3 linked regions of the Homo sapiens genome follow. The protein of the gene in region 1 purifies or fractionates together with the protein of each later gene. This does not show direct contact. Each region holds a gene or a part of one and is shown in the gene's direction. Other genes may lie near its edges. The genes, in order: NCSTN, EEPD1 and ERLIN2.

Region 1 (3,749 bases):
TGAGCATCTCCCCTCATTTCCTATTCCTACAGCTCAGAATCCAGACCCCAACCCCTGCCCTGTTTCCACCAACCCCCAGGGCCTGTGAGACAGGGTAAGAGACAGGATTGGATTGGGTGTTGGCCAAAGGATGAACACCACAGCTGTTGTTGCTGCTGGGAAGAATCAGGAACTCAGTGACATTCCATTGGTTCCCTGGACTGGGTAGTTCTCTGATCATTTGTTGCCTAGCAGACTACCACTGCCCATTAAGGATAGGTGAGTGACTAGCTCCCTTCTTGCCTTGCTGCCCCATGGATCCAATTGTCAAGGCTGCTCTACCCAAGTCCTGGCTGTGTCACACTCGCTGCCCAACTTGTCCTCCACTTTCCTCATTGCTTGTTCAAAACCTTCCCTTCCCTCTAGGTCCACCTTTAGGCCTGCTTTTTTCCAGGTGGTCCTCTTTCTGCAATTCCAGCCTTCAGCATCATCCCTGCTCTGGACTCCTGTAGCATTTAAAGAATTGGTTATCTGTTTGGCATTCAGCACGCAGTTTTCTATTATTATTTGCTCCCTTCAATTCTGCACAATAAATAATAAGTGAAGCATCCACTGAGGATAAAGCAGAGTCTTGAAGACAGTAGAATTTACTTATAAATATGAAAAAAAAGGTCTCTTCTTTATGCCCCAATTTTCTAACTCTAAAAAGAATGGTGGAAGCTACAGGAAATTCAGAGAGCCTTGGTCCCAAAAGGCTTGAGGGATAAAGGTCTACTAGAGATAGGGTAGCTCCCCAAGCAGGGAACTTGAAGTATAGAGCATTTCAGGCCTAAAAGAGACCTCCTGCTTCCCATCCCCCAGCCTCCCATCAGTTAATCTCCCTCGTACCCCCCAGGTGGAGGATCTCCTGGCCACATTGGAGAAGAGTGGTGCTGGTGTCCCTGCTGTCATCCTCAGGAGGCCAAATCAGTCCCAGCCTCTCCCACCATCTTCCCTGCAGCGATTTCTTCGAGCTCGAAACATCTCTGGCGTTGTTCTGGCTGACCACTCTGGTGCCTTCCATAACAAGTAAGAATCACTTGGCCCTGCACCCTCTTCATTCTTGAAGAGAGTCTATTCTGCAGTCTGGGAGGAAGGTCACTGCCCTCCGCTTTCCCACACTACCCCCTCCAGAACTTCAGGTCCATCTGTATTCTTTGCTCAGTGGCGTTTTCACATCTGAACTGAAACCCTTATTTGTTTGACTGGATATTCATCTTAGAAACTCATCCTCACCCTTAGCCCTTTACTGTCAACAATCCTTGGTTATGGTTCCACTGCTCCCTAGCTCTCCAGGGTCCTGAGTTCCTCAGGGTTGCCAGCAGAGGGCATCATCTCAAACACAAGCATGGGAAGGATGGTGGGGGCCCTTTGGCTAGAAGACAGAAAGCAGTCCTTCTCTGGAACTCACCCAGAGGTGCCAGAAACAGTATTCATACTCTGTGAAATGTACCATGTTCTTGCCATGTGGTAGATGGCCATGGTTCAGTGCGAGGGTAAAAGTGCCTCCTATAGCTGATGGGGCTCCAGAGATACAAAGGGTAACTCTGGGTTACCCTTTAACTGCTCCTAACTTGAGGCCTTGGATAACAGGGGACTTCTTACTCAGGCTGGATTGCCAAGCTTCCCGAGGGCCAAATGAGTTTCGTAGTGAAAATGCTTGAGCTCTATTTCTGACCCCAGCCAAGTAGCACCTTCTCATTCATTTAGGGGAGTGACCGTCCTAGCACTTAGGGTCAGCTGTCTTCTCTAAAGCTATCCTTGTACCACTTTGGGGCAAGTGAAGATTCATCATTTGAACACATTTTGGATTTGATTATGTAGCTGACTTGACTTTGTGTGGGACAGGGATTTACTGATGGTAAAGACTGTGGAGCTCAGCCTCTCTTTTAAGATCTATCTCCTTGGGGCTCCATAAGGATCATCATGGTGATTTTATCAGTGTATTCTTATATATCAGTGAGCAGACCTGATCCTAAGACCTGCTAATCACCTCCTGCTCCCAGCTACCCTAAATATAAATGTTCATTGGAACAGTTATACAACTGATCTCATGATACATGGCAGAGTTCTCTGAAAATCATCTTAGCCATCCCCCATATCTCCAGCCCAAATGATGTAGAAGAGTCTCTCCTTTGTTTAAAGATCTGAGCTCATTCAGCTTTTCTACCTTGTCTGTCAGGAAAGTCTTTAATTTTCACTAACCACCTCACCCTCACTCCTACCTCCCTGTTCTCCACACCTTCTGCAATATGGGATCCTGATTGTCTCTCACCCCTTTCTTCTGATGCTGAAAATGAGATACTGAGTCCCTGCATAAGGAGCATTTGAGGGAGGAAAGGGGCAGAGCCCTGGCTAAATGTAGCCAAGGCTCATGCCGGCTTTCCTGGCAGATATTACCAGAGTATTTACGACACTGCTGAGAACATTAATGTGAGCTATCCCGAATGGCTGAGCCCTGAAGAGGACCTGAACTTTGTAACAGACACTGCCAAGGTAGCACTGAGCCAGGCTGGGTGGGAGCCTGGGGCACACAGTGAAGATGCTAGCATTTGAGGATAGGAGAGGTGGGCCATTCAGCCCCCTCCTCACCTACCACAGGCCCTGGCAGATGTGGCCACGGTGCTGGGACGTGCTCTGTATGAGCTTGCAGGAGGAACCAACTTCAGCGACACAGTTCAGGCTGATCCCCAAACGGTAAGCAGATGGGCCCTAGCTCCTTCTTTCTATTTACACAGCAAGCTGTCCCTATCCTCCCTTGCCCTAGTGTCCCAAACCTTGGAATTCCACATGACTGTTGATGCCGGTGAGAATGCCTCATGCCCCAGAGAGCTCTTGGGTGGGCCTCATCTGCATCTTATGAGCCAGCTACTGTCTCCCAACTCCAGTCTATCTGGCCAGTCTGGTTCCTGCCCCATGACTGGGTCTCCACTGATAATTCTTTCCCTGGGCTCCCTTCAAGTCACAGGGTTTTCTCTCTTTACTGTTCCAATCCTAGGTTACCCGCCTGCTCTATGGGTTCCTGATTAAAGCCAACAACTCATGGTTCCAGTCTATCCTCAGGCAGGACCTAAGGTCCTACTTGGGTAAGCATCTGGTGTGGGAATGGGACCCTTAGCTGAGGAAAGGGATAGAGAAAAAGTCTTTTGGTTTAACCTTTATTATTTTTTTTCTTTTTCCTCTCTGTTTTTCTTACCCCCTGTTTTCCTTTCTTTCTTCTCATATTTGATGGATCCTTTTCCATTGCCCTTCTTTCTGGCTGCTGCCAATCTTGGGCTTTTCCTATTTCACCCACCATCCACCCACCAAATCTTCCCTTCCCTTTGGTCTGCACTCAGGTGACGGGCCTCTTCAACATTACATCGCTGTCTCCAGCCCCACCAACACCACTTATGTTGTACAGTATGCCTTGGCAAATTTGACTGGCACAGTGGTCAACCTCACCCGAGAGCAGTGCCAGGATCCAAGTAAAGTCCCAAGTGAAAACAAGGATGTGAGTGGTGGTGGGTGTTGGAAGTGCCCTGGGGCCCCTTTCCCTTGGGAAAGTTGGAGGTTCTTCTAGACCTAGTTAGACCCAGGGGATTGGGATGGAGAGGTGGAGAGATGCAGTCCTCAGCAATTGGGTGTTGAAAAGCCTGGGTGAAAATGGACCATCTGAAGGGTAAAGGGACAGCAGCCAGTTAGCTCAATTGGTTAGAGCATGGCACTGATAGAGGGTAGAGGGAACGAGT
Region 2 (3,749 bases), on another chromosome or scaffold:
AAAATATGTTTTCTCTGCTTCCAGCCCAAGTAGCCACGCTCCACGGCTGTGCTTCCACAGCCACGTTGCGCATCAAGGCATTCTGCTCAACGAAGAGTTTTCTCTGTTTTCCTGCTTGTCTTAAACTGTTTTTTCCTTACCGCACCAGGATTTCAGTGCGTGGCATAATGTAGCCCAGTGTTTGGGTGGGAGATGATGGTAGGTAGCAAGGCATTTTTGCGATCAAGTGCAAATAGCTTGCCTAAAAATAAAGCCAATAAAGAGAACCGTGGAGCCAGAGATGGAGGCAGTCCTGCCATGTCCTAATGACCCCATCATCACTTGGGTCGGATGCAACCAGACTTGAGGTAAGATTCCTTACCTTAACTTTTCAACAAGGAACCAAAAATTTCCCCCCGACCTTTTTTTTTTTTTTTTTGGTCTAAGCTAGTTTGACTTGGTTTTCTGACCAATATACATAGCAGGGGAATGTGCCTCAGAAAGGCAGTAGCATTTTCCAAACTTGGGCTGCCGCTAATTTTACAACCAAAGTACCTTCCGCCTGTGAGAGGTACTATTTTTGCTGACCCAGTCCTTGGAATTGAAACCAGATGCACTGGTCACATTGGTTGGGGATGAAACTTCAGAGAACACTAAACGTCCAGGGTCAAAGTATTCAACGATATCACCGCATGATTTGCTTAATCGAATACTCTAGCTCTAGGTATCCACTATAATGCAGAGGGCTCTTTAATCTTTAACCAAATTGTCATTTAGCAGTGTGATGCAAAAACTCTTCTGGGTTTTGGGAAGCAGCCCCCATTTCCCTCCTTCGTAATGATTAGACTTAATATTACAAAAACTTATCCTTGTTTACTCACAGCGCTAAATGTGCAAAGGAGCAAACCTGTATTTGACCTATGCGAACACACAGGAGGGTGGTGCGTGCCCTCTGCTAGGAGCACAATGCGTCGCTGGCGTTATTAGAGGACATCTCTCTGAGCGGAGCAAAGGTAATACACTGGTGGAAGAAAAGAAAAGGCCGAAAGTGGGGACAGAAATTAAGACGATCCCATTCAGTCTCCTCTGGAACGTTCTGCAAAATTCCGTGAGACCCTGGACCTACAGCGATGCACTCTCAGGGACTGCCCCGGCCTTCATCCCCACACCTCAAAGACAGACGAAAAGCAGCTGAGCAGATCTCGCCTCGGGCAATCCTAAACAGCCTCTACCAGGCACAACCAGTCCTAGGCCCCGGGCGGCAACCATGGTCCGGGGGCAGCTGACTTAGGACAGCCTCCCTGTGACCCGCCCTCGCCGGCACGGCGCCGGCTCCGCCCCTTAAGCCCCCTAAGTCCCGCCTCTGCGCTCCCGGGGCCTACCCCCGCGCTCATGGCCCCGCCCCCGCTTTTCCTACCCCATCGCGCCCTGGCCCCGCTCCCACACTCTATGACCCCGCCTCTCGCACTCCAGGCCCGCCCCACGCGCTCCAGGGTTCTGCTCTCCACCCATTTGTGCCAGGCCACGCCCCCACACCCATGGCTCCTCCTCTCGCACGCCAGGGCCTCCCCTCGCGCTCTCTGGTTCGTTCTCCACCCTCTTGAGCCTTGATGCCGCCCCCTCTTCCATGGCCCCGCCTCTCCCACTCCAGGCCCGCCCTTGCGCTCTCGGGTTCCTCTCTCCACCCACTGGTGCCAGGCCTCGCCCCGCGCCAGGGCCCCTCCCCCACGTGCCCTCGGGAGTCCCGGGGAGGAGTTGCCGCGCGGAGGAGGCGTGGCCGCGGTGCCTGCGGAGGCGCGAGCGGCGCGGCGCGGCGCGGCCGGGACTTTGGCTTTGACACCGACTGCGAGCGGGAGCCGTGCGGCTGGTGCTGGGTCTGGACTGGCTCTGGCGGATCCCCGCCCGAGTTGGGCGCAGGACTTTTTGCCGGGGTAAACGCAACTGCGGCGGCGCCGCCGCAAGCCCCGGTGCAGCCTCGGCGGCGGGTTTCGCCGCCGCTGCCGCCGCCTCCGAGCAGCCCTGCGGCTTCTATTCACTCTGGGAGAGCGATGCTAAGTTTCTCCCATAGAAAGAGCCGGGACACGCAGACCGAAGCGGCGTAGTCGGCTTCCAGGGCCTGACCAGTGACCCACACCCGCGCGGACGCCTAGGCTGGAGGCAGGGGGCCCGTGCTGTCCCGGGCTGGGCTCAGGCTTCCGAGCCGCAGGTGGAAGAGGAACCGGCGCCCCGCAGAGCGGCCGAGAGGTGGGGCGCGGGGACCCGCGGCAGGTCGGGTGGGGGGTCGATAAGCCCCTTCTCAGTGCCCGCTCCGGGGAGCACGGACTTCCCAGGTTGCAGGTAGCGCTGTGTCAGATGCGGAGCGTGGGGGAGGTGGAGTGGCCACCCCGTCTGCGCGAGCCCAAGTGTGGGTGACCCAAGTGTCAGAGTTGAGAGAGGCCTGGAGGAGAGGCATGAGGCTGATGGGGATAGGTCTCTTCCCAAGAGAAGCGGCTCGTAGCCTTTTTGGACTCCAGTGTGATAAAACCCGGACGTCCCTAGAGGAGAATCCACATGGGCCTAGCCTCATTGTGCCTGCGTTTTTAGGGGTTCACGGGCAGCCACCAGTCCCCGACTCCTGGTTACTAACTCTAGCACTAGGTAGGGGGTGCTAATGCAAATTTCTTAATTCAATGGGTTTCTATGTTTATTGATTTATTTTCTAGGCGGCCAAGTGAAAGGTAATTTTGGACACGCCAGGCATGGAAGATTCGGTGTTTGTCTATAGTAACCTCTTCAGTCCCTGAATCCTGCACCTTCCGTTTTTCTGTGCTTGTACGGCCTACTGGGCTTCCTCCCTAGCCAGAGAGCTCTTCTGCAGTGGTGCGGCCTTCCCGGGAGCCTGATCCTGGCGGACCATGGGGAGCACCCTGGGCTGCCACCGCTCCATCCCCAGGGACCCCTCGGACCTGTCCCATAGCCGCAAGTTCAGCGCAGCCTGTAACTTCAGCAACATTCTAGTGAATCAGGAGCGGCTCAACATCAACACTGCCACGGAGGAGGAGCTGATGACCCTGCCTGGGGTGACGCGTGCCGTGGCACGCAGCATCGTGGAGTACCGAGAGTATATCGGTGGCTTCAAGAAGGTGGAGGACCTGGCATTGGTCAGTGGTGTAGGCGCCACCAAGCTGGAGCAGGTCAAGTTTGAGATCTGTGTGAGCAGCAAGGGCAGCTCAGCGCAGCACTCTCCCAGTTCCCTGCGGCGGGACCTGCTAGCGGAGCAGCAGCCTCACCACCTGGCCACAGCTGTGCCCCTCACCCCACGTGTTAACATCAACACAGCCACCCCGGCCCAGCTCATGAGCGTGCGAGGCCTCTCGGAGAAAATGGCCCTCAGCATCGTGGACTTCCGCCGTGAGCATGGGCCCTTTCGCAGCGTTGAGGACCTAGTGAGGATGGATGGTATCAATGCCGCCTTCCTGGACAGGATCCGGCACCAGGTGTTTGCTGAGAGGTCCAGGCCCCCATCCACCCACACGAACGGGGGACTGACCTTCACCGCCAAGCCTCACCCGAGCCCCACTTCCCTGAGCCTGCAGAGTGAGGACCTGGACCTGCCGCCAGGGGGGCCCACCCAGATTATCTCCACTCGGCCGTCCGTGGAGGCCTTTGGAGGCACAAGGGATGGGAGGCCTGTGCTGAGGCTGGCCACCTGGAACTTGCAGGGCTGTTCCGTGGAGAAGGCCAACAACCCCGGGGTGCGAGAGGTGGTGTGCATGACACTCCTGGAAAAC
Region 3 (3,749 bases), on another chromosome or scaffold:
TGCCACCACGCCTGGCTAATTTTTGTATTTTTAGTAGAGACGAGGTTTCACCATGTTGGCCAGGCTGGTCTTGAACTCCTGACCTAATAATCCACTCACCTCAGCCTCCCAAAGATCACAGGCGTGAGCCACCGCGCCTGGCCAGACTTTCTCTTATCTAAGTATACCCATGGATTCTGCTGTCTTTTTCTTTTTTTTTTTTAGACAGAGTCTCACTTTGTTGCCCAAGCTGGAGTGCAGTGGCACAATTATGTCTCACTACATCCTCAACCTCCCAGGCTCAAGCAATTCTTACATCTCAGCCTCCCAAGTAGCTGGGACTATAGGCATACAACCACCACACTCAGCTAATTTTTTTCCTTTTCTTTTTTTGTAGAGACAGGGTCTCACTATTTGAGACAGGTTGGTCTCAAACTCCTGAGTTCATGCAATCCTCTCACCTCAGCCCCGCAAAGCGCTGGGACTGCACTAGTGGGTTCTGCTGTCTTTATTCCATTTAGCCTATGTGCCTATTTTTCTCCTTGCAAAAGCATGAACAATAGTTTTATGTTTTACCATCAGGCTTCCTAGAATATTAGGATCTAGCTGAGAGGAAGAAAGGGATCTGTAGCCATGGCTGCAGCACATGTCACTCTCTATTATATGTTTATAGGGCTGAAGGGAAAGTTGACCCTCATGATATTGATCTAACAGAGCCTTCTTGCCAAACTGAAGCTGCCTCTCTCTTCCCCCTCCTCTGCAGAGGCGGTGCCCTGCTGACTTCGACCAGCGGCCCTGGTTTCCATCTCATGCTCCCTTTCATCACATCATATAAGTCTGTGCAGGTATGCTTGGCCTCTGTGGTATGGCTGGACGACTGCAAACTTGGGCTGTTAACTAGTGCATGATTTGAAATTATTTAGCCATTGGATGAGTAAAATGCCATTCTAGAGAATGATATAAGGATAATATATACATATTATATATATATAATATATATATATATACACACATACACTATATATATATAAAATGAGGCTGGGGATTATTCCTTCAAGATAAAGCCAGAGAAGAACCTGTTCTGAGTATATGGAAAGAAAAGTCAGGGTTTATGTGTGTATGTTTTAAATCACAGGCTACCATGTTAAATGGAAAGAAAACATAGTAATTTTGCTGATTCTTATTTGAATTCAGAAATACGAACATAATTTTTGCAGTGAGTGGGGAGGAGTTAAACTAAGTGAGGGGAGGTGACATCTAAAATAGGAGTGAGGTTAGTTGTGGCAGATCTAAAGCCTGGCTAAGTTGGACTTGCCATCTCTGAAGTATGTCCAGCTAAGAAGAATAACAAGATTTTACACTTTACACTGACCCAGGAGAATGTCTTGGGATACCTGCTAGGCATTTTCCCTGTAAGTTTCATGTGCTGTTTACCAGGCTTTGTGGCTTTCAAACTGCATTCAGGTACATTGTCTCATTTGAGTCTTGTAGTAATCCTGAGAATGGGCTGAGCATGTGCTAGGGTCTGAGACAGGTTAAATAGGTAATCTGCTGTTTCAAAACTAGTACAACAGCCCTCCCCCTTATCCACTATTTCACTTTCCACAGGCTCAGTTACCCACAATAAACCATGGTCTGAAAACAGGTGACTACAGTACAATAAGATATTTTGAGAGAGAGAGAGAGAGACCACCTTCAAATAACTTTTATGACAGTATATTGTTATAATTGTTCTATTTTATTATTGTTGATCACTTACTGTACCTAATTTATAAATTAAACTTTATCATAGGTATGTGTTATAGGGTTTGGTACTCTCCCCGGTTTCAAGCATCCACTGGGGGCCTTCGAACATAAAGCGGTGCCTAACATAAATAGAAGAGGTAGAAGCAAGCACAAGTCTTAAGATGCCCAATCCAGTGTCATCTTCACTAAACCATTATTACTCAGCTTGTTGATGTGGTGGTTCACTTATAGTGAGGCTGGGGCACGGGCCTTTACTTGGCTTAGCAACCCTGTGAGGAAGGAGGATTAGGTGGGGTAATCATGTTTAATGAAGGCCATGCTCAACCCAAACAGTTATTCCAGGACAAAGGCATTTAGGATTCTGAAAAGTAAGTTACTTTGTCACTGCCCATCTTCTAGCACTTTATGTTTCCTCTGTTTCCAGACCACACTCCAGACAGATGAGGTGAAGAATGTACCTTGTGGGACTAGGTAAGGTACCCAGAATAAAGCTTTTAAGCCCAAATAAGTCAGAGAAAAGGCTGTCTGGCTGGTTGCAGGAAGAGACAGTGAAAAGGGAGGCACCCTTTCTTGGTTAATTCCCTGTCTCGTAGCTCCCTATATTGATTTGACCAGGTGATGGAGTGCAGTAGAGGAAATCATAGAAGGTTCAGGAGGGGCTAGAATGCTGTATGTGATAAGGAGTTTGCACTTACTCTATTAGAAGTGAGGATCGGCCGGGCGCGGTGGCTCACACCTGTAATCCCAGCACTTTGGGAGGCTGAGGCAGGTGGATCATGAGGTCAGGATATCGAGACCATCCTGGCCAACATGGTGAAACCCCGTCTCTACTAAAATACAAAAATTAGCTGGGTGTGGTGGTGCATGCATGTAGTCCCAGCTACTCGGGAGGCTGAGGCAGGGGAATGACTTGAACCTGGGAGGCAGAGATTGCAGTGAGCCAAGATCACACAATTGCACTCCAGCCTGGCGACAGAGTGAGACTCCGTCTTTAAAAAAAAAAAAAAAAAGAAGTGAGGATCACTAGTCACAATAACAAAGACATGGAATCAACCCAAATGCCCATCAACGATAGACAGGATAAAGAAAATGTGATACATATATACTATGGAATACTATGCAGCCATAAAAAGGAACAAGATCATGTCCTTTGCACGGGACATGGATGGAGCTGGAAGCCATTATCCTCAGCAAACTAATGCAGGAACAGAAAACCAAACACCACATGTTCTCACTTATAAGTGGGAACTGAATGATGAGAACACATGGACACATGGAGGGGAACAACACACACTGGGGCCTGTCAGTGGATAGGGGGTGGGGAGAGGGAGAGCATCAGGAAGAATAGCTAATAGATGCTGAGCTTAATACTTGGGTGATGGGATGATCTGAGCAGCAAACCACCATGGCACACGTTTACCTATGTAACAAACCTGCACATCCTGCACATGTACCTCTGAATTTAAACAATGGAAAATAAAATAAAATTTTAACGTTAAAAACAAAAAAAGAAGTGAGGATGCACAAAGGTTTTTAGCAGATAAATGACCTGATACAAGAAGATAACTTGCATAACTAAAGAGAATGTCATAAAGGTAGGGGAGACCTTCAGGGCAAAGAGATCCGAAGAGAACACTGCTACAGCGGTCCCACTGGAAAGCAAAGACAGTTTAAACTGGGATAGAGTGACAAAGAATACCACAAAGAAACACTCTGACAAATCCGGAATTGGAACATCCCACAAGATCGCAGGCCTGATCTCTTCACAAAGTGGTTGTATTTAGAGGGATGCTGGATTGGACAGAGACTTACAAGAAACATAAACAGAAGCAAGGGTGAGCATTGATTAGAACCTGGTTCAAAATTAACAGCTATAACAGATACGACAGAAACTATATGAGTCCACTCAGGCTGCCATGACAGAGGACTACACACCAAGGGACTAAAATAATAGATATTTTCTCACCATTCTGAAGGCCCAAAGTCCAAGATCCGGGTAACAGCAGGGGTAGTTTTGGTGAGAC

The links.
Region 2: the proteins of NCSTN (region 1) and EEPD1 purify together in Homo sapiens (affinity purification with mass spectrometry; 2 studies listed by BioGRID and IntAct, with this or other methods). This does not show direct contact.
Region 3: the proteins of NCSTN (region 1) and ERLIN2 purify together in Homo sapiens (affinity purification with mass spectrometry; 2 studies listed by BioGRID and IntAct, with this or other methods). This does not show direct contact.

Annotation. Positions count from the first base shown.
Region 1 is NC_000001.11:160,353,244-160,356,992, forward strand, and holds part of NCSTN (nicastrin isoform 1 precursor), read left to right. Parts: intron 1-79; coding exon of another isoform or gene 80-88; exon of another isoform or gene 89-851; intron 852-874; coding exon 875-1,047; intron 1,048-2,411; coding exon 2,412-2,514; intron 2,515-2,619; coding exon 2,620-2,715; intron 2,716-3,016; coding exon 3,017-3,104; intron 3,105-3,356; coding exon 3,357-3,511; intron 3,512-3,749. UniProt on the Homo sapiens protein: Essential subunit of the gamma-secretase complex, an endoprotease complex that catalyzes the intramembrane cleavage of integral membrane proteins such as Notch receptors and APP (amyloid-beta precursor protein).
Region 2 is NC_000007.14:36,151,452-36,155,200, forward strand, and holds the start of EEPD1 (endonuclease/exonuclease/phosphatase family domain-containing protein 1), read left to right. Parts: upstream 1-1,802; 5' UTR 1,803-2,223; intron 2,224-2,681; 5' UTR 2,682-2,873; coding exon 2,874-3,749.
Region 3 is NC_000008.11:37,739,623-37,743,371, forward strand, and holds part of ERLIN2 (erlin-2), read left to right. Parts: intron 1-742; coding exon 743-824; intron 825-2,149; coding exon 2,150-2,196; intron 2,197-3,749. UniProt on the Homo sapiens protein: Component of the ERLIN1/ERLIN2 complex which mediates the endoplasmic reticulum-associated degradation (ERAD) of inositol 1,4,5-trisphosphate receptors (IP3Rs) such as ITPR1.